2 separate regions of the Homo sapiens genome follow, and region 2 is linked to region 1. Evidence: fine-mapped expression QTL. A gene starts in region 1. The other region holds a variant in brackets. All regions are shown on one strand. Distances are between the middles of the regions. Region 1 holds the start of SPATA21 (spermatogenesis associated 21). Region 2 overlaps NBPF1 (NBPF member 1).

The links. PIP is the estimated chance that this variant, and not a neighbour inherited with it, causes the effect.
Region 2: its variant is fine-mapped to the expression of SPATA21 in cerebellar hemisphere (GTEx, PIP 0.97).

The regions. Positions count from the first base shown.
Region 1 is chr1:16,430,075-16,445,555 of GRCh38, forward strand. SPATA21 (spermatogenesis associated 21) reads right to left here and starts at 7,350. Exons shown (of 13, transcript NM_198546.1): 1 at 7,054-7,350; 2 at 2,716-2,850; 3 at 1,264-1,348. The coding sequence starts at 1,297. NECAP2 (NECAP endocytosis associated 2) reads left to right here and starts at 10,650. Exons shown (of 8, transcript NM_018090.5): 1 at 10,650-10,779; 2 at 13,558-13,658. The coding sequence starts at 10,688. RefSeq lists a silencer at 8,080-8,250.
Region 2 is chr1:16,582,089-16,597,569 of GRCh38, forward strand. NBPF1 (NBPF member 1) reads right to left here. Exons shown (of 18, transcript NM_001405701.2): 3 at 12,843-12,925; 4 at 12,504-12,573; 5 at 11,353-11,665; 6 at 10,071-10,225; 7 at 9,759-9,968; 8 at 1,506-1,608. The coding sequence starts at 9,933. Among named protein-coding and RNA genes, the nearest start is that of NBPF1, 24 kb to the right of the region's middle. RefSeq lists an enhancer at 7,968-8,467 and a silencer at 9,795-9,984. The variant G/T (reference allele first, on the strand shown) is at 7,953.

The sequences.
Region 1 (15,481 bases):
CCATTGCACTCCAGCCTGGGTGACAGCAAGACTCTATCTCAAAAAAAAAAAAAAAAAAAAAAAAAAGAAGATGCCGGACACGGAGGCTTATGCCTGTAATCCCAACACTTTGGGAGGCTGAGGCAGACAGATCACTTGAGCCCATGAGTTCAAGACCAGCCTGGGCAACATGATAAAGCCTTGTCTCTACAAAAAATTAAAAAAATAGTTGGGTATGGTGGCACAAGCCACGCCTATAGTTCCAGCTACTCAGGAGGCTGAGGCAGGAGGATCGCTTAAGCCTGGGAGTTCGAGGCTGCAGTGAGTCGTGATCGCACCACTGCACTCCAGTCTGGGTGAGAGAGTGAGAGCCTGTCTCAAAAATAAACAAACAAACAAACTAATAAACATATTTGATGGAAAGAGGCTGAGAGGTGTGATGGAAGCTTAGGATGCAGGCTGGGCTCTGGGGAGGGGCATGGAGGGAAGCCCTGAGTAGCTCTCAGGAGAATAAAGCTGGGCTGGAGGCTGTGAGGGGAGTTTGGAGGCCATGCAAGGCACCTAGAAGAGCGAGTAGGCAATTCTGGGTTTGCTCACCCTGCAGCTCTTTCCGTTACAGAAGCCAGCATTGTTTTTGGGAAGCTTCTCTTCTCCATTCAGCCCATGGGGCTCAGTGGAGCCACCTATCACCTCTGTCTCCATTGTATCAAGAGATCCAGACCACTCCCCACTGCCATGGTGATTGGTTCAAGGATGAGCATCTGACCACAATCTGGGCCAATGACAGTGATGCTAGAGACTTGTTTCAACTATTGCAAAGAGGCTCACTTCCTGTTGGAATGCTAAACCAGAGGGTGTAAGATGGGAAGATGTAATCCTGGAGTGGCCAGGGCAATCCCTGCCATCTTGCAGGGAGAGCTTGCCTGAGAATGAATCCAACACGGAGGAACATAGAGCCAAGAGATACTCATTTAGCACATTGATCTAGCCATACCTGAAGTCTATGAAGGCATGTGTCAGTTACCCAAACTGATATATTCTCTTTTCTGCTTAATCCAGTTTGAATTGGGTTTTGTGTCCATTTTTAACAGAGTCTTAATTAAAGCAGCTGGGGAGGAAGCCTGGGCAGGGGAAGGGAAAGGTGCCAGCTAGGAGTGAATGGATCAGAACATGGGGTGCAGGTCCCTACCTTGCTGACTCCTGGTATGATGGGCTCAACACCAGCCCTCTTTATGGTGATCCTCAGGCCAGGACTTGGCTGCGTCCCTGGAGCCTTGGTTCTACCCTCCGTGTACATCTGGGTGTTTCTATTGTCCATGATGCCAGCGCCAACACGGGTGCCAAGTGAGGGGCATCACCTAGTGTGCTCCTACAGGAGAAATCCAATCAAGCGTCCCACCAAGCCCATCACCTAACTGCTGCTTCAGGAGCCCACTTGGAGCCTATAATGTAGACAGCCTGGCTCGAGGGAAGAGGCGGGGCCAGGCCTTGCAAGGAGAGGCACGCAGCAAAACCAGAGAGCTAGCCACATGCCATTTACCCATACGCTTTTCCTAGTTCTCACTATGACCCTGAGGAAAAGGGGCTCTGGAAGGCACAAGACTTGCCCAAGATCTAACACCTGCTAGGTCGCAGACGAGGATTTGAACCATGGCCTGTTGAATCCCAAAACCCAGGCGCTTTCCCCGACGGCGACATTTCCTACAGGGTATTCTTTGGCATACTGGTCCCTTCAGATGCTCCAAGGGGTTCCAAGGCTAAATGCCTTTGGAAAGTGCTGTGATGAGCGAAATGATACAGGCTCTTTCCTGTACAACTTCTCAGAGCCTTTAAAATACTAATGTGCCTTTTAAAGAGAGTCCAAGAATGTCACAGCTGCTCCTGCTATAGATGAAAACTCCATGTTCTTAGATGGGGCTAAGGAACAAGAACTAGGGACATCTGTCCATCTGTCTCAGGGCCCCAAAGTCTCCAGCGGCAATCTGCAGTTCACCAAAGCACCCACACCCTGCCCTGGACACATCCTTTCTTTTTCTTTTTCTTTTCTTCTTCTTCTTCTTCTTTTTTTTTTTTTTTTGTTTGTTTTGAGACAGAGTCTCGCTCTGTTGCCCAGGCTGGAGTGCAGTGCTGCAATCTTGGCTCACTGCAACCTCTGCCTCCTGGGCTCAAGCAATTCTCCTGCCTCAGCCTCCCTACTAGCTGGGATTTTAGGCGGCCGCCACCATGCCCGGCTAATTTTTGTATTTTTAGTAGAGATGGGGTTTCACCAGGTTGGCCACGCTGGTCTTGAACTCCTGACCTCAAGTGATCCGCCCGCCTCGGCCTCCCAAAGTGTTGGGATTACAGGTGTGAGCCACTGCACCTGGCCATTTCTGAAGCCTTTCATCTCTCCTCCACCTCTTTCATCCAACCTCATGTTCAGCTGTGCCACCACCCCCTACACAAACTTTCTGTTTTAATCCAGGCAGGCTCCTGCAATCCTAGTCCCACAGACCCCAGCCTCTGTGCCCACCTCCCATTTTTTCTATCTTTCCGATAGCCCCCAACCCATCCTTCAAGCTCCTCCCTCTTCTCCAAGTTTCCAACCATCTCAGCTCTCTCTCCAGCCACTGAATTCCTTTGAGGCAACATCAGCACCATTTCTATGGGTACATGGACCCCCTTTCACTGTTAACTAGTTTCCAGGAGTAAATCCTAACCCCCATGCCCCTTCCTCCTGTAGTGAGACCATATGACCTTGAAGATCTTGATGGTGCTTCTTCCACTTTAAATCATGGCAGGCCCGCCAGCATCCACGGAGGAACCTTCCATGTGCTGGAAACCTTTGTAAACAGTATTCTCCTAACAGCCCTGTGAAGTCTGGGTTCAGCCCTGTTTTAAAGATAGGGAAATTAAGGCTCTGAGCAATGTTTTGTCCGATACCACATGGCCAGTCTGCAGAGGAACTGGATTCAAACCCAGGCCTGTCTGACTCCCATGGCCACTCATCTCATCATATCATTTTGCCTACAAAGAAGCTTAAGTCATTCATTCATTTCCTTGTGCAATCGATAACTGTTTAATGACACGTGCCCGTGCTAGGGACAACGTCAGGCCTTAGGGGATACACTGGGTGTCCTGACGGTTCCCACAGTTTACCAGGGACACAGAGGAGGCGCACTTAATAGCTGCTGACCCAAGTTCGCACTTCCTTTTCCTGCCCTCCAGGCCCTTCCTGCAGTTACAGCTGCACCCCTGCCATGCAAAGCAGACCTCAGCTGGTTTGGTGGGGTGACCTCCCACCCCTGGTGCAGCTCTGGCCTCACGAAGGACCAGGCTGTCACCTGGAGCGGAAAAGTCAGGGCTGTGGCCAAGTCCTTCTCTCTTGCCTTGGAGTTCCTTGCCCCTCCCCAGCCTCTTTCTCATTAGGGTTCCCCTAGCCATTCCCGCTTCCTCTGAGTCTTCCTGTCTCAGGGGTGGATGAACCACCTAGGGAAAATCTCCCCCTACGCCCCTCAAACACACCCCCTATTGTCCACTGTCTCTGCCTGAGAATGTGCAGGCTCAGCCTTGGAATTGTCAGGCCCCAGTATTCCACAAACTGAAGTTTTACGGAGGCAGAAGCCCCAGAGGGGCTCCAGCCCCTATCTGTCCACATCTGGAGCTTGCTAACTCTGAGAATCTAGACAAGGAGGGGAAGCCCCAGCCCTAGCAGAGGGGCTTGGAATCCAAGGGTAGAACTGGGAGAGAAGTTGACAAATATCGACTATGTCACCCTTTCAGATCACTTGGGACCCTTTTTTGTTTACAGCTTTATTGAAATTTAACTCACATACCATACAGTTCACCCATTTAAAGTGTACAATTCAACGGCTTTTAGGATATTCACAGAGTTGTACCACCCTCGCCCTAATTCTAGAATATTTTTATCACCCCAAAAAGAAACCCCACACCCCTTGGGCATCATCCCCAATCTTCCCACCCCAAACCCAGCCCTAGGTAACCACTAATCTACTTTCTGTCTTAGTGGATTTGTCTATTCCGAACATTCCATATAAATGGAATCATACAATATATGGTCCTTGGTGAGTAGCTTCTTTCACTTAACGTCATGTTTTCAAGGTTCATCCATGTTGTAGCACACATCAGAATTTCATTCCTTTTTATGGCTGAGTAATATTTCACTGTATGGCTAGACCCCATTTTGTTTATCCATTCATCAGTAGATAGAAATTGAGGTTGTTTCTTTTTTCTTTCTTTTTTTTTTTTTTGAGACAGAGTTTTGCTCTGTCACTCAGGCTGGAGTGCAGCAGTGCGATCGTAGCTTACTATAGCCTCAAACTCCTGGGCTCAAGGGATCCTCTCCCCTCAGCCTCTGAGTGGCTGGCTGGGACTACAGACGCATGCCACCATGCCTGGTTCGTCTTAAAAATTTTTTAATTTTAAATAGAGGCGAGGTCTCATTAGGTTGCCCAGGCTGCTCAAAGTCCTGAGCTTAAGTGATCCTCCCACCTTGGCCTCCCAAAGTGCTGAGATTACAGGTGTGAGCCACCATGCCTGGCCCGTTTCCACATTTTACCTATTATGAATAACACTGCTATGAACATTCATGTACAAGTTTTTATATGAACATACATTTGCATTTCTCTTGGTTATGTATATAGGAACGGAATTGCTGAATCACATGTCAACTCTATTTTTAGCTTTTGAGTAATTGCCAGACTTTCTCAAAGTGGCTGTATCATTTTACCTTCTTACCAGCAGCATATGACTGCTCCAATTTTTCTGCATCCTCTCCAACACTTGTTATTATCTGTCTTATTTATTTATTTATTTATTTTTTGAGACAGGGTCTTCCTTTATCACCCAGGATGGAGTGCAGTGGTATGACCATAGCTCACTGCAACCTCCAACTCTGGGGTTCAAGGGATCCTCCCACCTTAGCCTCCTGAGTAGCTGAGACTACAAGTGCACACCACCACACCTGGCTAATTTTCAAATATTTTGTAGATGGGAATCTCACTATGTTGTCCAGGCTGGTCTTGAACTCCTCAGCTCAAGGGATCCTCCCGCCTCAGCCTCCCAGTGTTTTGGGATTACAGGTGTGAGCCACTGTACCGCCTTACTTGTCTTTTTTATCATAGCTATCCTAGTGGATGTGAGTGTAAAGTGTTATCTCATTCTGATTTTGATTTGCATTTCCCCAATGGCCGATAATGTTGGACATCTTCATGTGCTTATTGGCCATTTGTCTATCTTCTTTGGAAAAATGTTTATTCAGAGCCTTCGTCCTTTTTTTTTTGAGATGGAGTCTCGCTCTGTCACCCAGGGTGGAGTGCAGTGGCCTAGTTCCAGCTCACTGCAACCTCCGTCTCCCGTGTCCATGCAATTCTCCTGCTTCAGCCTCCCTAGTAGCTGGGATTACAGGTGTGTGCCACCACACCAGACTAATTTTTGTATTTTTAGTAGAGACGCGGTTTTGCCATCTTGACCAGGCTGGTCTCAAACCCCTGACCTCAGGTGATCTGCCCACCTCAGCCTTCCAAAGTACTGGGATTACAGGTGTGAGCCACCATGCCCGGCCCCCCCCTTTTTTTTTTTTCAGACAGGGTCTTACTCTGTCCACAGGCTGGACTGCAGTGGCATGAACGTGGCTCACTATAGCCTTGACCTCTTGGGCTCAGGTGATCCTCCCATTTCAGCCTCCCAAAATGCTGGGATTACATGCATGAGTCACAGCACCCAGCCTGCCTCTGTCCATTTATACTGGGTTGTCTTTTTATTATTGCACGGTAAATGTTCTTTATAAATTCTAGATACATGTCCTGAATCATATATATGATCTGCAAAAATTTTCTCCCATTATGTGGATTACATTTTCACCTTTTTGTCTTTTGAAGCACAGAAGTTTTAAATTTTTGTAAAAGTCCCATTTATCGGCCTGGTGCGGTGGCTCACACCTGTAATCCCAGCACTCTGGGAGGCTGAGGCGGGCGGATCATGAGGTCAGGAGTTTGAGACCAGCCTGGCCAGCAAGGTGAAACCCCATCTCTACTAAAGATACAAAAAATTAGCTGAGTGTGGTGGTGCGTGCCTGTAATCCCAGCACTTTGGGAGGCCGAGGCGGGCAGATCACCTGAGGTTGGGAGTTTGAGACCAGCCTGACCAACATGGAGAAACCCCGTCTCTACTAAAAGTACAGAATTAGCCGGGCATGGTGGCACATGCCTGTAATCCCAGCTAGTCAGGAGGCTGAGGCAGGAGAATTGCTTGAACCTGGCAGGTGGAGGGTTGCAGTGAGCCGAGATCGCACCATTGCACTCCAGCCTAGATGACAGGGTGAGACTCTGTCTCAAAAAAAAAAAAAAAAAATACAGATAGGGTGCAGTGTATACTGCTCAGGTGATGGGTGGACCAAAATCTTACAAATCACCACTAAAGAACCTACTCATGCAGGGCAAGGTGGCTCACGCCTGTAATCCCAGAACTTTGGGATGCCAAGGGGGGCAGATCACTCGAGGTCAGGAGTTTGAGATCACCCTGGCTAACATGGTGAAATCCTGTTTCTACTAAAAATACAAAAATTAGCTGGGCATGGTGGTGCCTGCCTGTAATCCTAGGTACTTGGGAGGCTGAGGCAGGAGAATCGCTTGAACCTGGGAGATGGAGGTTGCAGTGAGCAGAGACTGCACCACTACACGCCAGCCTGGGCAACAGAGCAAGACTCCGTCTCAAAAAAAATTACTAATGTAAACAAAAAAAAAACACCAAAAAACAAAAACCTTAGTCATGTAGCCAAATACCACCTGTACCCCAATAACCTATGGAAAAACAAATAAATAAATAAATAAATAAAAAGTTTTGAAATCAGGAAGTGTGAGTCCTCCAACTTTGTTCTTTTTCAAAATTCTTTGGGTATTGAGTGCCCCTTTTATAAGTGGTTTCCTCATCTGAAAAATGGGAGAATTTCTCTTGGAAATATCTATGATGGCAGGAAAATACAGCAGATAAAGATAAGTGGCATATCATATATATGTCTGGAGGCCGTCAGGGAAAGCTTGTTCACCTTACACCCCACCTTGGCCCTGCACCTACCAGAAATCAGCTGGATGAGTCACAGTGAGATTTTCCACCCCTGCTCACCGCCTTGCACATAGGATGGGCTCTGTCTGAGCCTATACTTTGCCTGTTGGCTTGAATTGGATTTGTTTGGTATACAGGGCAGTTAAACTGGGAATAGATGGCAGGTCCAATTATTCTCAGCAGCAGAGGTTTAGGAATGCATTTCAGGAATATCCAGCCATGTGGTTAGGGTTTGAGAATAAGGCAAGGGGCTGTGTGACCTCCAACTACTGGACAGTGTCATTTCCCCCAGCTTGTCACTGGTTCAGTGGCCCCCATTACACAATGAAGATAACAATCGTTGCCTTGCCAACCTCACAGTGATTATTGGGCCAGGGTACTCTCTCCCAGAAAGCCTTCCCTGACTCTCCCCAGACTGTGTGGGGTTTCTTCTCTTTGCTCCCACAGGCCCCTGTGAATTTGCTTCATTACAGTACCTTTCATTCTGCTTTGCCAATGACTGCTTTTCTCTCTGTCTCCTCCAGTCTGCGAGCTCCAGGATGGTAGGAGCTGGATTGGCCACATCCCAGTGACCCCAGTACTCAGCACCTGGCATAGGGTATGTGCTCGATGCCTGTCTTTGTTAGACTGAACAGAACTGAAAGTGCTCTGAATGGCTGGGTGCGGTGGCTCACACCTGTAATCCCAGCACTTTGGGAGGCCGAGGTGGGTGGATCACTTGAGGTCGAGTTATAGACCAGCCTGGCCAACATGGTGAAACCCCGTCTCTACTAAAAATACAAAAATTAGCCAGGCATGGTGGCGCATGCCTGTAATCCCAGCTACTTAGGAGGCTGAGGCACGAGAATCACTTGAACCTGGGAGGCAGAAGTTGCAGTGAGCTGAGATCATGCCACTGTCTTCCAGCCTGGGTGGTAGAGTGAGACTTAGTCTCAAAAAAAAAAAAATTGGAAAATAAGGCCAGGTATGGTGGCTCATGCCTATAATCCTAGCACTTTGGAAGGCTGAGGCAGGAGGATCTCTTGAAGACAGGAATTCAAGACCAGCCTGGGCAACATAGCAAGACCCCCGTCTCTACAAAAAGTAAGAAAAATAGCAGGGTAGGGTGGTGTGTGCCTGTAGGCCCAGCTACTCAAAAGGTTGAGGCAGGAGGATCCCTTGAGCCCGGGAATTTGAGGCTGCAGTGAGTGATGATCGCACCATTGCACTCCAGTGTGGGGTGACAGAGAGAGAAAGAAAGAGAGAGACCCTGTCTAAAAAAAAAAAAAAAAAGAAAAGAAAAAGAAAAGAAAAGAAAAGAAAAATAACCAATATTTGCAAAAATGTGAAGAAATTGAAACCCTTGTGAACGTAAATGGTGCTGCTGCTGTGGAAGACAGTTTGGAGGCTCCTCAAAAAGGTGAGCAAGGCCGGACATGGTGGTTCACACCTGTAGTCCCAGCTACTTGGGAGGCTGAGTTGGGAGGATCACTTGAGCCTGGGAGGTTGAGGCTGCAGTGAGCCATGATCATGCCAGTGCTTTCCAGCCTGGGCAACAGAGTGAGATGCTGTTTCAAACAAAACAAAACAAAACAAAACCACTAAACATAGCATTATTGTATAACTCAGCAGTTTCACTCCTATGTATACACTCAAGAAAATGGAAAACAGGACTAGAACAAGTGTTTGAACACCAATGCTCATAGTAGCCCGATTCCCAATACCAAAAGGTGATAACATCCCAATTGTTGACAGATGAATGGATAAACAAAATATGGTATATACATGCAATGGAATATTATCCCTCCATTAAAAGGAATGAAATTCTGATCCATGCTACATGAAAGAACCTTGAAAACTTGATGCTAAGTGAAATAAGAAACACAAAAGCCCAATATTGTATGATTCCACTTATAAGAGGTATCTAGAAAAGGCAAATTCATAGAGACAGAAAGTAAAACAGAGGTTACTAAGGGATGGAGCAGAAGGAAATGGGAAGTTATTGCTAATGGGTGTGGAGTTTCTGTTTGGGATGATGAAAAGTTCTGGAAAGCATGATATAGTTGCACAATATTGTGAATGTACTTAATTTCACAGCATTGTACACTTAAAATGGTAAATTTTATGTTATGTATATTTTACAATAAAAATGTAAGTGGTTAGATCAATCCTATAATAAAAAGCTTATAAAAAATGAGTAGAAATGGCCAGTCGTGGTGGCTCACGCCTGTAATCCCAGCACTTGGGAGGCCGAAGTGGGCGGATCACTTGAGGTCAGGAGTTCAAGATCAGCTTGGCCAACCAGATGAAACCCCCGTCTCTACCAAAAAAATACAAAAACTAGCCAGGCTTGGTGGTGGGTGCCTGTAATCCCAGCTACTCGGGAGGCTGAGGCAGGAGAATCGCTTGAACCCGGGAGGTGGAGGTTGCAGTGAGCCGAGATTGCACCACTGCACTCCAGCCTGGGCGGCAGAGTGAGACTTTGTCTGAAGAAAAAAAAAAAAAAAAGTAAAAAGGAGAAGGAGAGTGAGAGAGAAAAGGAAAGAAGGGGTGGGGAAAGTTTGGGGTATTCAGTGAATCAGAAGTTTGGGATCAGCTTCACCCCCACATAGGGGCTGGCACATTGCAGGCACTCAACTCAATGAGAGAATGGTAGGGAAGGAGGGATTTTGAGAATTTGGCTAGGGTAGACATTGTATCTCCCAGAATATTCTGGGAGAAATCGAAGTTAAGACTGGAATTCTTCTTCTTCTTTTTTTTTTTTTTTGAGACAGAGTCCCGCTCTGTCACCCAGGCTGAGGTGCAGTGGCACAATTTCAGCTCACTGCAACTTCCGCATTCCGGGTTCAAGCGATTCTAGTGCCTCAGTCTCCCAACTAGCTAGGACTACAGACACACGCCACCAAGCCCGGCTAATTTTTGTATTTTTAGTAGAGACGGGGTTTCACCATGTTGGCCAGGCTGGTCTCGAACTCCTGACCTCAGGTGATCCGCCCGCCTCAGCCTCCCAAAGTGCTGGGATTACAGGCGTGAGCTACCAAGCCCGGCCTGGAATTCTTCTTAAATTACTTGTGTTACTAAACTTTACTTCTTTGAATACAACTCGTTGTTGAGGTTTGGCCACACGGGGCCCTGAGCATATAAGTGGGTTCCCCTAGGGGAAGCATGGAGGGTGGTAGGGTAATGGCATCTATTTAGTCTGGTGGGTCAGGTGCCAGCTGAGCCTTACAGTCAGGAGAGGGAAGGATATTCAGGCAGAGGAGGCGCCGAGGCAAAGGCTGGAGGACAGAGATACTGCAGGGTGGGCTACAGCTTTGCCTCTCGGTCAACTGGGCCCCAGGCCTAAGAAACTGAAGCGATGGGGATGATCCACACCCAGACCACGGGTTACAGAGGGGTCTGTCCATGGCGGGCGCAGGGCGCTTTCTTTGCGTCGGAGGGTGTCTGGAGGGAAGGAGAAGCCTCTGGAGGGAGGGAGAAGCCTCCGGAGGTCGCCCGCCACGTGTCTTGAGCCGGGTTTCCAGCAGAGGGCGCACAAACGAGGCGGTGCTGAGGCCCGCGAGCTGCCGCTCTAGCCGAAACCTGGTCAGAGAGTCGCACCGCTTCCGTCCGTCGGACAGAGGAACGGTGGAAGTCGCCGGAAGTTCGGTGGGCTCCAGGCGTCGCGATGGAGGAGAGCGGGTACGAGTCGGTGCTCTGTGTCAAGCCTGACGTCCACGTCTACCGCATCCCTCCGCGGGCTACCAACCGTGGCTACAGGTGACTACCCACCGCCAGACCAGGCTAGCTCCAATTTAACCCTTTCTCCGCCACCCGGACACACCCACTGCGGGAACCGAGGACAGCCCTGGCCAGTTTTGGGGCGAGGGGGAGCTAATGCTGCTGCTTCTTCCAGTTCCAGGCCCGAGCAGGGAGGTGGATCCAGAGTTTCGCCCGTCTCAGTTCGACGCACGGGACTCCTGGCGGCGGGGAGGGCGTTAAAGCCGTATCTAGCGCTTAGGGACCCCGGTGGGCTGCCGGGTACCCTAAACTTGGTCGGGGGTGGTGATGTCACAGACGCTTCTCTTTCAGCGCTAACCGGTGGCCTTGAAGGGATCCTCGAAAAGCCTTAAGCGGGGAGGTGCCCTATCACAGACGGAAATCCCCGAGAGGAGGGGAGGGAGCCCAGAGCCGGCTGAAAGGACCGGTCCCGGGGAGCTTTAAGGTGACGGTCGAAGCCCAGGGACCCCTTCCTACCCAGATCCCTTCGCACGAATTTCACCCTTGATCACAGCCTGGAGCAGTTGGGAGGACCCCTTCTATATTTCTCTGGTCTCTACCTGAGACGAATAAACACACACGCTTGTAAACATACTGAGTATCTCTGCAAAGGAACACAGGAAACTGCCCTAGGGGAGGGGAACCGCCCTTGGAAGGAAACTTCCTTTCCCTTTTGTGCTGTTTGCGTTTTACTACTCTTTGTATGCGTTATCTATCAAAACGACGAAAAATATTAAAAGAAAAAAGATACACTTCATACAGACAACCTGGCCTATGGCTATTTTGTGCCACTGAGTGGTGGTGGGGAGTGCTCGTATTTGCGGGGGCCTGGGTGGCTCTTGAAGGCGATGGTTGTCCAAGTTTTTCGGAAATACAGGATTGGTCTGCACCCCAAGAATGATGGAACGTCCACATTTCCTCTTGTTACTTTCCAGTTGTGTTACCGTGGGCTCATAGCTGATCTTATGGTGAAAAGATGCGTTAGTGAACATTACATTCATGACATATTTTAAAATAGTATAAAAACAAAAACAACAATAACCAAAATACATTTGTTTTCTGTCATCAAACTGTGGTTGGACCATCAAACCATTGATGGTCGTCTAGCCCCATCTCCTGTTGGGTCTTTTTTTTTTTTTTTTGAGACAGAGTTTCCCTCTTGTTGTCCAGGCTAGAGTGCAATGGTGCGATCTCGGCTCACTGCAACCTCCGCCTCCCGGATTCAAGCGATTCTCCTGCCTCAGCCTCCCGAGTAGCTGGGATTACAGCCATACACCACCACACCCGACTAATTTTGTGTTTTTAGTAGAGATGAGATTTCTCCATGTTGGTCAGGCTGGTCTCGAACTCCCTACCTCAGGTGGTCCACTCGCCTCGGCCTCCCAAAGTGCTGGGATTACAGGCAGGATCCACCGCGCCCGGCCCCCTATTGGGTCTTTAGTAGGATGGATTTGGTTCCTCTTGGTGCCCCAGAGAGCGAGGTTATGAATTGTCAGGGCTGGCTGGTTTAGCTTAGAGGAAACTACCAGTGCCTGCACTTAAGTCTTGGAGCTCTCCTTAGCCTGAATCTCAGGCCTGGTAAGAGGAACAGGAACTGAGTCTGCTGATTTGTGAATTGAGAATCTGCATTTGTGCAGCCCTCAAGACAGCCGCGTCCAGGGTTCTTGAGAACTGGCATAGGGACTTCTAAGAAAAGCCTCCTGGAAACACCTGCGGTTCTTGCTATTTGGGGATTTAACTGACCTTTTCTTAGAACTAAAATGTGAAGTTAATGCTTTAAAAGAGTCAAAACAGCTGGCTGTGGTGGCTCACGCCTGTAATCCCAACACTTTGGGAAGCCTCGGTGGAAGGATCCCTTGAGCCCAAGACTTCAGGACCAGCCTGGGCAACATAGACCCTATCTCTATAATTTTTTTTAATTGGCCTGGTGTGTTGGTACACACCTGTAGTCCCAGCTACTCAGGAGGCTGAGGTGGGAGGATCTCTTGAGCTCAGGAGGTTGAGGCTTCAGTGAGCCGTAGTTGCGCCACTGCACTTCAGCCCGGGTGACAGAGTGAGACCCCGTCTCAAACAAATTAGAGCCAAAAGAGGCATTGCTGTAGGTTCATGGTTTCCTGGGTTTCTTCCTAAGGACCCATTCACTTTTCTCACATGTACTGTTGTTCTCCTTTTCTCTTCTGGTGATTGTTCCATGCTGTCTTTTTCTTTCAAGATAGTCTCACTGGTCTCAAATGGTCGCTCTGACTGCTGCAGTCAAGCAGTGTCAGAAACAGAATCAGGCCCCTGCAGCTGCTGCTTCTATAGAAAGGAAACTGGAAGGAAGTCCTACGTGGAGGAGGACACTGTGGTCTAGAGAGGGGGTCACCAAGTGACAACCCAGTGTGTTTTTGTATGGTTCACACCTAAGAATAGTTTTTACATTTTTTAAATGGTTTGGAAAATTTTTAAAGGAGAGTATTTCATACTGGGAACATTACATGAATTTCAGATTTCAGTGTCTACACTTTGATTGAAATACAGCTGTGCTCAGTAGAAAATAGTTAAGATACCTAAAGCATCACCACGTGCATGTTCTATACTGATTTTACCCTACAGCAGCCGAGCTGCCTTGTTGTGACAGGCTGTGTGGCCTGTAGAGCCAAAGATATTTACTGTCTGACTCTTTACAGAAAATGTTTGCCAACTCTTGGGCTAGAATAAGCAGCCCTTTCCATTCCCAGCATTGGGGTCACACAGCAGGAGCCTCTGGCAGAGATTCAGTGGTGTTTGTCCCCTTAGGGCTGCGGAGTGGCAGCTGGACCAGCCATCATGGAGTGGCCGGCTGAGGATCACTGCAAAGGGACAGATGGCCTACATCAAGCTGGAGGACAGGACGTCAGGTAACCGGAAGGGAGGCTGCATCAAGCTGAGGGGCCGCACCCCACTTTATGAAGGGAGAGGTGGCCTGGTCTGGCCAGGCTGCTCAGGGGTCATGGGAACCTGTCCTGAAAAATCAGAGACGTGTGTGTACCTTTAAGCTGTACCATTCCCCCACCTTAGTTGTAGAAAGTACCGTCTCCAGGTGTAAAAATGAGTATTTCATGTCAAACACTAGTTCCTTTTAGGAGTCCTCAGGAAAATGTGGGGGCCAAGGAGAGGAGACCGCAGCTTGGTCCTGGTAGGAAGTAGGAAGCCCTGGAAGTGGCCTTGAAGACAGGCGGGTGAGGATGCACAGCCCTCTGCCGCTGGGCTCTGCTTCCTACTGAGGAATTGTTTATCAATGCAGCGGTAACTCCCAGAGCTGACCACACCCATTAACCGAAGAAGCTGGAAACTGTCCTACTCAGCTCTTTCTGTAGTGAGAGGACGAGCTGAGCTGGGTTGTGTTGGGGTCAGCTGGCAGAGATCGTCTTGGGGGAAACTTCACAAGTCCTGGGCCACCTGTGCCTCTGGGTGAGCTGTGGAGGGCAGTGCACCTGGAATCCCCCAGCCGAGACCCCTAGTGGGGTCGGACACAGTGTCTGCTCAGTCAGGTGCCACAACATTCGGTCATTTATTTTTTCTAATATGTAGAGATTTTCCTTTGTAGAGCAGAAGAGAAAGTGCAAAAGTTTAGAGAGAGAACTGGCTGCCTCTTCTCAGAACTATGTTCTGCCTGAGCTGCTGGATGTGGGGTGAGCCACATGACCTCTGGGGCCTTGGCCTCCTCCTTGTTGAAATGGGGATCATATTAGTTCCTCCTTCATAAGATTGTTGGAGAATAGGAAGTGAGCAGATATTTCTGTAATGCTTTACGGACTGCGAGGCAACCCAAAGCATTGATGTGTTCTTCGGGAACTTGGGTACTGGCGGCAGAGGAGTTTGGAGAGGCAGCTGCCATGGCCAGACCAGAGACTTTAAGCTGGAGAATTGCTGGGACACCCCAGGTAGTGTCATAAGAGAATGGTAACACCTCGTTCTCTGAGGAATTTGGTAACTGCGACTTTATTTTAAAAAATCATTTGTTTTTAGATGGAGTCTTGCTCTGTCACCCAGGCTGGAGTGCAGTGGCACGATCTCAGCTCACCACAACCTCTGCCTCACAGGTTCAAGCAATTCTCTGCCTCAGCCTCTCGGGTAGCTGGGATTACAGGCGCCCCCCCACCACGCCCAGCTAATTTTTTTTGTACTTTTAGTAGAGACGGGGTTTCACCATATTGGCCAGGCTGTTCTTGAACTCCTGACCTCGTGATCCGCCCACCTCGGCCTCCCAAAGTGTTGGGATTACAGGTGTGAGCCACTGTGCCCAGCCAGCTGTGACTTTAACATGACTCCCTAACGTAACAGGCACTGCCTAGGGCTGAGCCTCCCCTGTGGGACCCACCCCAAGGTGCTCTTAGCTCAAGGTCATGCCTGGGTCATGTTAGACTCTTACTTTCCCATGAGGTAATGAGCATATCACTCTAGGCCAGGCTTTCTCAGCTTCAGCACTGTTGACACCTGGGGCCAGATGAGTCTTTGTTTTGGAGAGCTGTGGAGCCCAGTGAGGACATTTCACAGCATTCTTGGCCTATGTCTAGCAGATGCCAGTAGCACCCCCCAAGTTGTGACAATCAAAATTATCTCTAGACATTGCCAGATGTCCTCTTGGGGACAGGGGAGCAAAATCACCCCTGATTGAGAACTACTGCTGTAGGCTGAAGGAATCTTGGTGAGGTTGGAACACAAGGCAGATAAATTGACA
Region 2 (15,481 bases), 150 kb after region 1:
GGATGCTTCAGACCCTTGCAAGAGACAATTTGTTTGCCTTTGCAGATGGAGAGAGAGAAACTCTGGAAAGATAAATCACTCACTCACCGACAGTTACTAAGAACATTGCCAAAAAGACAGCCTGGGAACCTTCATTCTTAGCCCAGAGCTCTTTTCACTCCAACAAGCGCCCTCCCATCACAGCCTCCTTCCTGTCCTTTAAAACTAGACAGATGCTGCCTCTTGCTCCAAAGACCACCTTCCATCAAGGAAGGAGGGACACTTGCAATACTGTGACCTCCAACCCCATGGGTTTCCCATCTCTGTTCTTACCCAGGAAGTCCTGGTCATGTCATGGCCACATATGTGTAGCAGAAAATAACCCCACTGATACAACTGTCATTGTGAAAGTATGGAGGTCTGGAGCCTCTCATAAGCCTGGGGTTTTGGGTCATCAGGGCCTATGGCCACCTTACCTGGGCTGAGCTTCTGGAAAAGTTGCTGTGCCAGTCTACACCCCTCAGCCAGCTGTTCTTGGAGGTCCTGCCCCTGGGACTTGTCTGGCTTATCCGGAGTGAGGAGGGCCTGGAGATGCTGATTCAATGAGCGGGAGGCATCTCTCCCTTCCCGTAACTTCTCCCTTAACTGGGTCAGCTCTCGTTCCTGAGAGTGAACCAGGACTTTATATTGCCTAAGGTGAGACGGTAGAGAAAATTTAAGAGTGGAAAGGGTTGAGTGATCCGTTCAAATATTGCAACAGAGATTTCTGAGACAATGTCCTCAAGGAGACCTCCAAGCAGAAGGTCAGCACATGTTGAAAGGAATGACTGTGGCCAAGAGAAATAATAGAAAATGGTTTACAGGCTTCCTCTGTATCAGAGAGGGCTCCTGCAAGATCCTCGATGATGTTCCATTCATCTTTCCCTTCTGTAAACAAAAGTAGGTGTCTTCCTAATTCCGTTTCAAAAAGACATCCTTTCAGTTCCTCACTCTGGCCATGGACATTTCCATGTGAAAATACACATAGTGCAACTTGCAGCCACTAGATACAAAGCCATGTACAGAAATGAGGCCAGGTGCAGATGGGGCGAATTGAAAAGACGAAAGAAGAAAAGAATGACAGGGTCAAGAAGGCAACATTGATTGAGTGAAAGAATGAGAAGACGCAGTCAGTCAGAAGGTGGTTCTCACTAAGGGTAAGTGGGGTGGTGATGGCACACCATTTTGAGTATACTGAGTGCTGCTGTGTGGTTCACACTCCTTTGGTTAATTTTGTGTTATGTAAATTTCACATCAACAATTACTTGTTTGAAAAAGAGAAAACAAGGCTCTAAGAAACAACTGCAACCCATAAATTTTTATTATCCTTCTTCTCTGCTTGATAAATACTTGTGTGTTGCGAGCCTGCCATGGCAATTCCTGCCCTTCCCCTGGCCCAGCTTAGCTCTTACGTCTCCCCACCGAGCTGCTGTACTTCAGAGATTTACACAGCTGCTCCCCCACCTGCCCCCATGGGGTCCCCTCACCTGAGCTCCTCAGCTTGCTTGAGCTGCTCTGCAAGCTTCTCCTCCTTGAACTGTCGCTCATTCCTCAGCATAGATTTTATGAGGTCTTTGCACTCTTCATATTCTGAGAAAAGACAGACACGCCTGCCTCAGTGGAAGGCTGGACATGCTGCTGTGGTCATTGCCTACAGGGCAGGAGCCAGGTCCATCCCAAGGACAAAACTCTCCCCAGTACCAGGGTCTAGACAGGGATTTCCACATCTTTACTCTTCAGTCTCCTGACTTTCTGGCATCTGATCCTCCAAAATTTAGAGATGAAGAAAGGGAACCTCAAGGGCACATCAAGGAAGTTGACAAGATGATTCAACCACAACGAAGTGGAGTCAGAATTCACAGCCCCTGAGGTCTGACTCTGAATGCAGGGCCACTTTCCCAAGACTTGCAGCCTCTCCTCTAAAACACTGCACTGGGGCATGAAGTAGTGATTTCTTGTACAGTCGGGAAGGCCCCTAGGACTATGGGACTGACGGTTTCCCTTTTACTGGGAATTTCAAAGACAAGTATGCGAAAGATTTTAAAAATCTTTGATTTTTAAATCATATCTTCAGTTATGATTTTAAGAATCATATCTGAAGCATAAAGTGTGACACATAACACCATAAGGTCATGAAGGAAATATGCCCAAATGCTAATAAAGTTTGTGTTAATTTAGAAACAGCAGAATGAAGAACTAATAGATAGTGTTTACTGTGTGCCAATAAATGTTCTAGGAGATTGACAAGAAATAGCTCATGTAATTCACTGCAGCAATTTACAGAGGTAGGTATTATTGTAGTACCCTCTGAACAGGTGAGGAAACTGAGGGACAGACAAGACAAGCAACTTGGATGGAGCCCAGGAGACAGGCCCACGGTCTCTGCTCTGTACACTGCACTGCTACCTCCACACATTCTCAGGTGCGATCTTTCTTCCTCTTTAGGAACAAGACTCTGTGCCCCAGGAAGCAGGACTTCACTCTCACCAAGCTACACTCTGCTTCTTATTCTTATTTTTATTTATCATTATTATTATTATTATTATTATTATTATTTTTACCAGTCTTGCCCTGTCACCCAGAGTGGAGTGCAATGGCAAAATCTTGGCTCACTGCAACCTCAGCCTCCTGGGTTCAAAGGATTCTCCTGCCTCAGCCTCCTGAGCAGGGGTGATTACAGTCACCTGCCACCATGCCCATCTACTTTTTGTATTTTTAGTGGAGATGGGGTTTCTCCATGTTGCCCAGGCTGGTCTCAAACTCCTGACCTTGTGATCTGCCCGCCTCAGCCTCCCAAAGGGCTGGGATTACAGGAGTGAGCCACCATGCACAGCCCCTACTCCCTGCTCTTGATGCTGTCACTTATAGATAGCACAGGTTCTATTAGGAGCAGACTCCTCTTGAAGCCCCTCAGAGCGGGTACTGGCTACTATCACCAAGTTTCCCTCAGAGTCACTAGAACAGAGCTGTGCCTGTTGGGCCTCAACAGAAACTTGAACTGAATAAAAGTTCACTAGTCTCAGACATTTAGAACAACAGACTAGATGTTATTTGTCTGCAGGATCTTACATGGTACAGAGAGGATTCTTGGAAACATGATTGAGCCTCTTGGAGAAAACAGGTCATTCTGTGCCTGTGTCAGAAATCAATAAATGGCAGTTTAACTCTAGTCCCACCCCCACCTGATTGCAAACATGGAAAGTTGCTAAATACTTTGGTACCTCTCTCTTCCAACTTTAACAAAATGTTAAAATACCCATTTCTGTTTTCCTAGAAGTATGGGGAGGATGACATTATTTTAGATGGAGAGAGCACTTAGTTTCTCAGAGAGAAGACAGGACTTCGTTCATCACTTTCGTGATGGTGAGCCTATAGATCTTACTGTATTTGTTCTGCTGGTTGGCCAGGAAGCAGGCCAGTTGAGTTACAAAACATTTCTCTTTGAGGTTTCTGAACTGCTGTTTCTTCTCTGCCAGCTGGGGATGCAATTTCTCGTTGATTTCTAGAATGTTCATCTCTGCCTTCTCGCTGGACAAAGGGCCGGCTGATACCACCATGCTGACGTTTGTGGCAGAAGAGGTGGGGCCAGGGACTGGGGAGAAGAAAGGCAAACACATGATGGGTTAAAAACTGGTGAAATCAAATAGGTTTAATCACACTGAGGGATGTCAGTGGCAGCCTTGTCTACTTATTTGAAAATGTTGTTTCCCTGGTTTCACTCTTGTCATCTCCAGTCTTGATCTCCTTTAAGTCAACTTGTCTTAGCTATGCAGTCACCTTGAAACCAGGACATAAACACTTCTACACTTTTCTTGCTTATAAGTTTCTATAAAGCAAGGCTGGGCCCTGAGATTTTTACCCCATGAGTGGCCAATGTTTCTGTGTAGCACAAAAGATTGCATTTTCCTTTTTCGATATTTTTCTCTTTTGGTTTTTTGTTTTTTGTTTGAGACGGAGTCTCACTCTGTCACGCAGGCTGCAGTGCAGTGGCGCAATCTCAGCTCACTGCCACCTCTGCCTCCCGGGTTCAAGTGATTCTCATCCCTCAGCCTGCCAAACATCTGGGATTACAAGCGCCAAGTAACATGCCAGCTAATTTTTGCATTTTTAGTAGAGATTGGGTTTCGCCATCTTGGACAGGCTGGTTTCGAACTCCTGACCTCAGGTGTTCCGCCCACCTTGGCCTCCCAAAGTGCTGGGATTAAGATGTGAGCCAGCACCCCCGGTCAGAGACTTTTTTTTTTTTTTTTTTTGAGATGGAGTCTCGCTCTGTCTCCCAGGCTGGAGTGCAGTGGCACAATCTAGGCTCACTGCAAGCTCCGGTTCCTGGGTTCATGCCATTCTCCTGCCACAGCCTCCCGAGTAGCTGGGACTACAGGCGCCCAACACCGTGCCCAGCTAATTTTTTTTTTTTGTATTTTTAGTAACGACGGGGTTTCACCGTGTTAGCCAGGATGGTCTCGATCTCCTGACCTCGTGATCCACCCGCCCCGGCCTCCCAAAGTGCTGGGATTACATGTGTGAGCCACCGCGCCCGGCCGAGACTTCTTATTAATAGCTAAGACAAGCCAATGAAAAGGAGAGAGAGTCTAGCCTGAGAGGAGTGAACCAGGGTGGGAGGATCGTCTCAGCCGATCCTCCCACCTAAGTCTCCTGAGCAGTTGGGACTAGAGGCACGCAGCACCATGCCTGCCTAATTTTTTGTATTCTTTGTAAAGATGGGTTTCACCATATTGTCCAGGCTGGTCTTCAACTCCTGAACTCAAGTCATCCTCCCACTTGGGCCTTCCAAAGTGCTGTGATTATATGTGTGAGTCACAGAACCTAGCTCCATCCTAGTTTCTGACTAAAAGAATAACAATATGTGTATATACAGCCTGTCCTCAGAATTGATCTTCCATAGCCTAGACAGAGGTATGAGACACAAGGAAAATAGAGGCTACCTGGGAGAATGTTTACAGCATCCTGACATTCATCATGAGAGGATTCTCTGTCTACAACCAGAGTTGAGTTGACTTTGTCTTCCTCAAAGGTGATGTTGATGTTCTTGTGAGGCTGGTTGGAGTCACAAGGGCTGTGGCTATTTGAACAAGTGATGGCACATTCCTCCAGTGAGTCCTCAGGGACTTTGCTTTCTTCAGCCTTCTGCACCTCCCTGATGAGCCAGGTGGGACAGAGATGACAGAAGATTAAACACAGAGGGATTGGACCCCAGGGAGTCCTAGCTGGTTTTGACAGGCGGCATTAAGACAGTGGTCCCAGAAAGCAAAATGGAGGTTCCCTTTAAGGGGGAACAGGCAATCCTCTTCTCTCTGCAACAGAGCATGGCTGCCATGGGAGCCAGAGAGGAAGAGAGCAGCTGGTGTTCAGTGCACTGGACAGATAGGAGCTGAGGAGGATGAAGACTCAGCTATCCCTGTATGGTACAGACATGACACTTGGCACACATAGAGAAACACGACAGCTGCCGCACCCTGTGTCTAAGCTGGGTTGAATTTCACATACTGTGGCCAAGCGAATGCGGGCTTTTGGCCCATCATAGATGCCAGAGAGGGTGTGCCTCCTACACATTTTCATATGTTACCACCCATTACTTGCTCCCGAGTATTCAGTGTTACCTGGGGGCAGATGATTCCAGTACTTTCTCAGCCTCCTCAACTTGAACATCTTCATCCTCATCTTCGTCATTTTCTGTAAATACAAAATGTTCGTTCAGATATTTCCCACTTCACATTCTGCAAGCACAGTCAGCCCAATGTGCACAGAGACATGAACATCTATGTATGGTTCAGCACTGTACTGAAAACTGTCATATTTTATCTTTCACAAAATGCCCTGGCATGGTTTCCTGGTCCATCGGGCAATGCATTTCTGATCTGGAGGGCCACCATCAAGATGTGGTCAAATATTGAAAAGACCTTTTGCTTCCCATATCACTGGAGGCTTGTGCAGCCTCTCTCTGGACTTTGGCAGCTGTCGCCCCCATCCTGCCACATATCTGATTCCCAGGAACAGGCTTGGTGTCCTGTCACAGTTCGCATTTCAAACCTCATTCTTTCTCTTAGGAGAGGACAAACTTGTCCCACAGTCCTCTATGCATCATGAGACTGCACAGGCCCTCCATGTGGCTTCTGCTGTGTTATTCAGGGACATTCTATCCACGGGGAGTGCTCCAGTCTGAAGCACTTCCTACCACCAAATGCCCCTACACCAAGTGCCTTCTCCAACACCAAACGGAGAGGGGCTTCATCTCATTTTAAAAAGCATTCGTAAGTGTTCCCATATTTGGATGCTTCAGACCCTTGCAAGAGACAATTTGTTTGCCTTTGCAGATGGAGAGAGAGAAACTCTGGAAAGATAAATCACTCACTCACCGACAGTTACTAAGAACATTGTCAAAAAGACAGCCTGGGAACCTTCATTCTTAGCCCAGAGCTCTTTTCACTCCAACAAGCGCCCTCCCATCACAGCCTCCTTCCTGTCCTTTAAAACTAGACAGATGCTGCCTCTTGCTCCAAAGACCACCTTCCATCAAGGAAGGAGGGACACTTGCAATACTGTGACCTCCAACCCCATGGGTTTCCCATCTCTGTTCTTACCCAGGAAGTCCTGGTCATGTCATGGCCACATATGTATAGCAGAAAAAAACCCCACTGATACAACTGTCATTGTGAAAGTATGGAGGTCTGGAGCCTCTCATAAGCCTGGGGTTTTGGGTCATCAGGGCCTATGGCCACCTTACCTGGGCTGAGCTTCTGGAAAAGTTGCTGTGCCAGTCTACACCCCTCAGCCAGCTGTTCTTGGAGGTCCTGCCCCTGGGACTTGTCTGGCTTATCCGGAGTGAGGAGGGCCTGGAGATGCTGATTCAATGAGCGGGAGGCATCTCTCCCTTCCCGTAACTTCTCCCTTAACTGGGTCAGCTCTCGTTCCTGAGAGTGAACCAGGACTTTATATTGCCTAAGGTGAGACGGTAGAGAAAATTTAAGAGTGGAAAGGGTTGAGTGATCCGTTCAAATATTGCAACAGAGATTTCTGAGACAATGTCCTCAAGGAGACCTCCAAGCAGAAGGTCAGCACATGTTGAAAGGAATGACTGTGGCCAAGAGAAAGAATAGAAAATGGTTTACAGGCTTCCTCTGTATCAGAGAGGGCTCCTGCAAGATCCTCGATGATGTTCCATTCATCTTTCCCTTCTGTAAACAAAAGTAGGTGTCTTCCTAATTCCGTTTCAAAAAGACATCCTTTCAGTTCCTCACTCTGGCCATGGACATTTCCATGTGAAAATACACATAGTGCATCTTGCGGCCACTAGATACAAAGCCATGTACAGAAATGAGGCCAGGTGCAGATGGGGCGAATTGAAAAGACGAAAGAAGAAAAGAATGACAGGGTCGAGAAGGCAACATTGATTGAGTGAAAGAATGAGAAGACGCAGTCAGTCAGAAGGTGATTCTCACTAAGGGTAAGTGGGGTGGCGATGGCACACCATTTTGAGTATACTGAATGCTGCTGTGTGGTTCACACTCCTTTGGTTAATTTTGTGTTATGTAAATTTCACATCAACAATTACTTGTTTGAAAAAGAGAAAACAAGGCTCTAAGAAACAACTGCAACCCATAAATTTTTATTATCCTTCTTCTCTGCTTGATAAATACTTGTGTGTTGCGAGCCTGCCATGGCAATTCCTGCCCTTCCCCTGGCCCAGCTTAGCTCTTACGTCTCCCCACCGAGCTGCTGTACTTCAGAGATTTACACAGCTGCTCCCCTGCCTGCCCCCATGGGGTCCCCTCACCTGAGCTCCTCAGCTTGCTTGAGCTGCTCTGCAAGCTTCTCCTCCTTGAACTGTCGCTCATTCCTCAGCATAAATTTTATGAGGTCTTTACACTCTTCATACTCTGAGAAAAGACAGACACGCCTGCCTCAGTGGAAGGCTG[G/T]ACATGCTGCTGTGGTCACTGCCTACAGGGCAGAAGCCAGGTCCATCCCAAGGACAAAACTGTCCCCCGTACCAGGCTCTAGGCAGGGATTTCCACATCTTTACTCTTCAGTCTCCTGACTTTCTGGCATCTTATCCTCCAAAATTTAAAGACGAAGAAAGAGAAATTCAAGGCACATCAAGGAAGTTGACAAGATGATTCAACCACAACGAAGTGGAGTCAGAACTCACAGCCCCTGAGGTCTGACTCTGAATGCGGGGCCACTTTCCCAAGACTTGCAGCCTCTCCTCTGAAACACTGCACTGGGGCATGAAGTAGTGATTTCTTGTACAGTTGGGAAGGCCCCTAGGACTATGGGACTGACGGTTTCCCTTTTACTGGGAATTTCAAAGACAAGTATGCGAAAGATTTTAAAAATCTTTGATTTTTAAATCATATCTTCAGTTATGATTTTAAGAATCATATCTGAAGCATAAAGTGTGACACATAACACCATAAGGCCATGAAGGAAATATGCCCAAATATTTTATTAGTATGACAGGCAGCATCAAGATTTAGATTAGTTGTGTTAATTTAGAAACAGCATAAGATTAGTTTGTGTTAATTTAGAAACATCAGAATGAAGAACTAATAGATAGTGTTTACACTGTGCCAATTAATGTTCAAGGAGATTGACAGGAAATACCTCATGTAATTCATTGCAGCAATTTACAGAGGTAGGTATTATTGTAGTACCCTCTGAACAGATGAGGAAACTGAGGGACAGACAAGACAAGCAACTTGGATGGAGCCCAGGAGACAGGCTGAGGGTCCCTGCTTTGCACACTGCACTGCTGCTTCCACACATTCTCGGGTGTGATCTTTCTTCCTCTTTAGGAACAAGAGCCTGTGCACCAGGAAGCAGGACTTCACTCTCACCAAGGTACTCTCTGCTTTTTATTTTTATTTTTGTTTTATTTATCTTTTTGTTTGTTTGTTTTTTGATGAGTCTTGCCCTGTCACCCATGCTGGAGTGCAATAGTGCAATCTTGGCTCACTGCAACATCTGCCTGCTGGGTTCAAAGGATTCTTCTGCCTCAGCCTCCCGATTAGTGGTGATTACAGTTGCCCGCCACGACGCCCATCTACTTTTTGTATTTTTAGTGGAGATGGGGTTTCTCCATGTTGCCCAGGCTAGTCTCAAACTCCTCACCTCGTGCTCTGCCCGCCTCAGCCTCCCAAAGTGCTGAGATTACAGGAGTGAGCCACGTTGCACGGCCCCTACTCCCTGCTCTTGATGCTGTCACTTATAGATAGCACAGGTTCTATTAGGAGCAGACTCCTCTTGAAGCCCCTCAGAGCAGGTACTGGCTACTATCACCAAGTTTCCCTCAGAGTCACTAGAACAGAGCCTTGCCTGTTGGGCCTCAACAGAAACTTGAACTGAATAAAAGTTCACTAGTCTCAGACATTTAGAACAACAGACTAGATGTTATTTGTCTGCAGGATCTTATATGGTACAGAGAGGATTCTTGAAAACATGATTGAGCCTCTTGGAGAAAACAGGTCGTTCTGTGTCTGTGTTAGAAATCAATAACTGTGAGTTTAACTCTAGTCCCACCCCCACCTGATTGCAAACATGGAAAGTTGCTAAATACTTTGGTACCTCTGTCTTCCAACTTTAACAAAATGTTAAAATACCCATTTCTGTTTTCCTAGAAGTACAGGAAGGATGAAATTATTTTTGATGGAGAGAGCATTTAGTGTCTCAGAGAGAAGACAGGACATCATTCATCACTTTCATGATGGTGAGCCTATAGATCTTACTGTATTTCTTCTGTCGGTTGGCCAGGAAGCCGGCCAGTTGAGTTACAAAACATTTCTCTTTGAGGTTTCTGAACTGCTGTTTGTTCTCTGCCAGCTGGGGGCGCAATTTCTCGTTGATTTCTAAAATGTTCGTCTCTGCCTTCTCGCTGGACCAAGGGCCAGCTGATACCACCATGCTGACGTTTGTGGCAGAAGAGGTGGAGCCAGGGACTGGGGAGAAGAAACCCAAACATATGATGGGTTAAAAACTGGTGAAATCAAATAGGTTTAATCAGGACTGAGGGATGTCAGTAACTGAAATTCTTAACTTACTGTTGTGAAAAATGTGATCACTCCCCACAGCACTTTAGGATCCTTCACCACAAAAACAAGGTTCGAGGTGCCTGAACTCAGAGCTGAAAGCACTGCCAGTAGCTCAGACTCTGATAAGAGTGAGGTAGACTGTGGCCAGCGTGCCAGGTAACCGTCTGCAGTTGCAATAACAGAATTAGAAGGTGGGGGTGTCATGGAATCTTAGGAGCCCTGCATTCCAATTGCCCAGGCTTTCCTGAAACACAGGCACCCTAGTCTCACCTGAGGGTCACCACCAATGGGGATCATTCCTTCAGCATTCACTCTCAGTATTCGTGTACCCTTGTGATGATGCCACAGACCCGTGTCTTTCCCAATACATCTAAGCATATTCCTCACTGTTTATCTCTTGTCTGTACAACATCATCAAGGCAGAAACAGTTTCCCAACAGGTTGTATTTTCTTAATGGTAGTCATGAAGTCACCCCACCTGCTCTCAGTTAAAACAGAGCTTAAGGCCTTTCCACAGGTGTAAGATATCAAACTTTTAGCCTGCCCTGATTTCCTCTGGGTCTTCTGCAGTTTTGTCTGTATCCACTAGAAAGTGAATGAATAATTCATTTGTAAAAAATGTTGTCTTTCCTGTCTCAGTATTCTTCTTGCTGTTTCCCATTGTTATGTTGATTTCTTTTTTCTCACTGGGGCACCATCTTTGCTTTTCATTACACTCTAGACCAGTTTGACATCCCTATGTCCAGAGCTCTTCCTCTATGTGGGTTGATTTGGTTTTTGATGTCACTGAGCGCTACATTTTATACTTGTCACTTATGGATGTCATTCTAGTGTCACAAGAGCTCTTTTCAAGGTATCAAGTGATCAAAATCATTTATATAGAGATCTCCTGAAAACATGTGTGACCATCTATCTTGGGAAGTTTCATAAACCTGATGCTATTTTGTTGTTTCCATTTTGTTTTCCCATATACTGAAAAGAACAGGGCCATGAGCGGTTCTTATGCAATATGGTTTGATATATATTTTGTTGAGATGACCTAACACCATTGATTTTGGGTTGCATTCCACTAACAGAACATGGCAAGATCAAGGTTATGGTCACGGTTGGTTGGTGATCCTCAGTGTTGCAGTAGAAGGTGAGTTTGAGATGAGAGGAATGAGTAGGAAAGAGTGATCCCCTGAACCACCTCCTCGCTTTCTCAGCTTTCACCCCACCTAGGTTTTGTGAGCCTGGAACTTGGGAGACTGTTCTGTAGCCCAGGTCTCCTAAGATTGGCTGCTGGACTTGCCTGAGTTGAGGGTGCGGTGGGTTGACCCTGGGCTGCCCAGCATTCATGTGGTAGTGAAGGAAGGAGGACTGGATCAATCCCATTTCAAAGCATGTCTCTCTGCACTCCACACTGTCCTCCAATGACACTGTAAGGAAACCGCTTTAAGACGTATCAACGGCTTTAAGTAAATGTATTTTCTGGCATCTGGGAGACCTGACATTCTGTGTCATAATGAAAATCTGTCATGTTTCTTTATTTTAAAAATGATAAAACTGCAGGTTCACAGAGTTACATGGCTTACTTGAGGTCACACGGGGATGAGTTTTCAGCACTGCCAATAAAAGCAATCACATGAATTATTCAGTAATTATTCATAGGATCCATATAATTCAGTAAATATTCACATAATTATTTACTAGTTGTTCATTGACCAATTCGTACAAGGCATTTTGCTCAAAACTGTGTTTATATTTGGACATTGTATCTTCATCATAATCCTGTGGTAATGCTGTTATCCGTAAGTAACAGGTAAGAAACCTGAAGAGGAGGGATAGCAAATCATGTATTTGGACATATTTCCTTTTTTTTTTTTTGGTTTTTGTGATGCTGGAAGAATGACCAGAATGAGTCATAGGAAGAGTATACATTCCTGTAGTATTTTCCAGGACAGAGGTGTGACCTCCTAGAGTACTGGGACCAAAATTCCCAAGTGTCTGCAACCTTGCTTTAACAGTATGGGAGATCACCTCTATCACCTGGAATTCCCCTGGAACTCTGGAATATACAAGAGAAGTATGAGACTTGGGTCTTCCCTTGGCTGTGTTTAATTCACTCTTCTATGGAATACCAATGATTCTCACTAAGACTGGCCTTTTCATAAGCACAATGTGCATTTTATGGAGAAGATTTTACACTTTGCTCTATTTAGAAAGAATAAATATGAGCAGTGGTTTAGGTTTTATGCCCTGGACTTAATATGTTTCTGATTCCTGTTTTGAGATTAAATTCTCATGTAAATAGAAAAATACTTATTATTTCTCATAAGGCCAAGTTTGTTATTAGTTTGAGTTTTTGAAGATGAAGCACAAACTTTTGATTTTATCTTTGTCTGTCTCTGTCAGCGCCACTCGTTGTCTCTCAGTATGACCTGGACTTGCCCCTGCACTTACCCTTGTCCTGCTGAACCATCTCCATGCACTGTCCAATTCCATCAGTGATTCGGGCTCCTTCCAAGGCTCCCTGAAAAGGGCACAGAGATCAGGACATTAGGCACATTCCGGACACAAAGGCAACCCATACTGTAGAGTGGGCAGCTGTGTTTCCACTTCCCTAATATTCCAGTGATGTCCTCAAACTGAAAGGAACACTTTCCCTTTTTAGGGGTCTGTTCTTCATGTCTCAGTGCCTCTGATCTAGTCAACACAACTGTCCTGAATGTGAAAGAACTTGCTAAATTTCTAGTTTCTTGTTAGGTGGCTAAAATAGATTTATAAGACTTCCTTACTTACCCATGACTGCTGAAGTTTGAATTCTTAGCAGTACGATTCGTTTTCTTGTAAGGTGAGCAGCTTAGGAAAGATTGGCCATCTTCCTGTGCAAAAAGAGGCAAACTTAATTTCTACTCAAAGCATGCTTGAATTTGGAATCAGGGCTTCCACTCTTCCGAAGTTGGAGTGTCACTGCGACAGGCATGTGTCCCGAAGGGCTCGTGTCTCTGCTATACTCAAAGTTTAAATGGAGCCCAGCAAGCCAGATGTCCTTTACTTCTAGGTTCCCTCAACAGTTTCTCCTCCGCTTTAGAGACCGCATTGAAAATATTCTTGTTCTGCTGTTGTGTTTTGGCTTTGGAATGATGTGATGCAGCTCAATGGGTCCCACCCCCAACTTGATCAAAGTAAGAAACAGCTGGGAAAGTCAGTGCAAATACAAGTTCATTGTCCTCCTTGCAGGGATTCTGATTCAGAGGGCTCAGGTGGGGCCTGGAATGTTTGTTAACATGACTCAGATGTGCAGTCAATTTGGGGACTCACTGACAGCATTGACCTTACAGTTTATGGGATGATTCTTTCTGTTTGGTGATGAAGAAACTGAGGCACACAGAGTCTGTAACTTGCCCAAGTTCCCCTTGTTGTAAGTCCTGGAGCCAGATCTCAGGTGGACCAGTGCTTCTCTCCCCTATACCTCATTTCTGAGAAAAGGAAATCTTCTGCAATTTGACTTCTTTCATCTAACACATTTCCTCACAACATGCAGCCAGCATCATATTTTGGCCACTTACTATTAAAGTGAGATGCTTTTTTTTTTTTTTTTTTGAGACAGGGTCTTATTCTGTCACCCAGGGTGGAGTGCACTGGTGATTATAGATCACGGCAATCTTGAACTTCTGGGCTCAAGCGATCCTCCTGCCTCAGCTTTCCAAGTAGTTGGAACTATAGGCACACATCACCATTTCTGGCTAATTTTATATTTTTCATAGAGACAAGGTCTTGCTATGTTGCTCAGGCTGGTTTTGAACTTCTGGCCTCAAGCGATCCTCCCACCTAGGCCTCCAAAAGTGCTGGGATTACAGAAGTTAGCCACTGAACCTGGCCCTGAAATGCTTTTATTTCTTTCTTTTTTTTAATGAAAATACTGGACATGGAGATGTGGAAAGACACCTTGCTTTATTACTTTTGTTGTTATTATTATTTCTACAGTAGAATTTATACATCACAAAATTCACCATTTTTAAGCATACATTTCAGTGTCTTTTACCATATTCCAAAACTTTCGCAACCATCGCCACTACCTAATTCCAGAATATTTTCATAATGCCAAAAAGCATGCCTGTACCTATGGGCAGACACTCTCCAATTCCCCCCTTCTTGCGCTCTCTGACAACCACTAATCTACCTTCTCTATATATTGATGTACTTGTTCTGGGCACTTCCTCTATATGGAATAACAAAGTGTGGTATTTTCTATCTGCTTCTTAGAATATTGTTCTCAAGTTTCATCCTTTCTAGCCTGCGTCAGTACTTCAACTTTTTATGGCCAGATAATATTCCACTATATGGTTATACCACATTTTGTTTATTCATCAACTCATGGTGGTTTAAGATGTTTCCACTTTTTAACTATTAGGAATAATGCTGCTGTGAACAGCTTTGTACAGGTTTTTGAGTGAACATCTGTTTTTCATTTTCTTGGTTATAAACCTAGGAGTGCAATTGCTGCATCATATGTCACTTTATGTTTCACTTTTTGAGGAACTCACACACTGTTTACTAACTTCAGTAGCTATATCATTTTAGATTCCCAATAGTAATATATGAGAATTCCATATTCTCCATCACTTTTGAAACATGTGTTGTCTTTATTTTTTTCTTAAGTCATACTGCTGGGTGTGAAGTGGTATCTCATTTTGGTTTAAATTTACATTTTCCTAATGACGAAAAACATTGAACATCTTTGCATGTGCTTCTTGGCCATTTGTGTGTTTCCTTTAGAGAAACCTCTACTCACAGCTTTTTTTCCCCATTGTTAAATGTGGTTGTCGTTTATTGCTCAGTTATATGAATTCCTTATACACTCTAGGTACTAGACCTGTGTCAAACATACAATTTGGAAATAGTTCTCCCATTATGTGGATTATCTTTTCACTTCCTTGACAGTGTCCTTTGAAGCATACAAGTTTTTTATTTTAATGAAGTCCATTTATCTATTTTTCGGTTGTTTGTGCCTACTTAAAAAATGTCTAATCCAAAATCACAAAGATTTGTACCTAGGTTTCCTTCAAGACATCGTCTTTTGAATGAGAACTTTCCTGGGTTTTAGAGGAGGGTGGACATTGTTTATTGATGCCTCCTGTCCATTACCGATGTTTCTCTTGATTGTTATTCATATGCTCACCACCCCTCCATGGAGCATCCATGGCCTGTGACAGAGCTCTGGGGACTGATATCCTTCCACTGACTTTGGCGCTGGTGAGAGCCCTGGTCATGTGATTCAGCTTGGCCTTAACCCGACCCAGTTGCACATATTCCTCAGGCCCTTTAGAGTTGAAGTCGAGACCTCTCTGAGAACGCTTGCCAGCCCATGCTCTTCTAAGGCTGGAGCAAACTTCCTCCATCTATTCCAGACAGAGGGGACTGCAGGGGTTGGACTC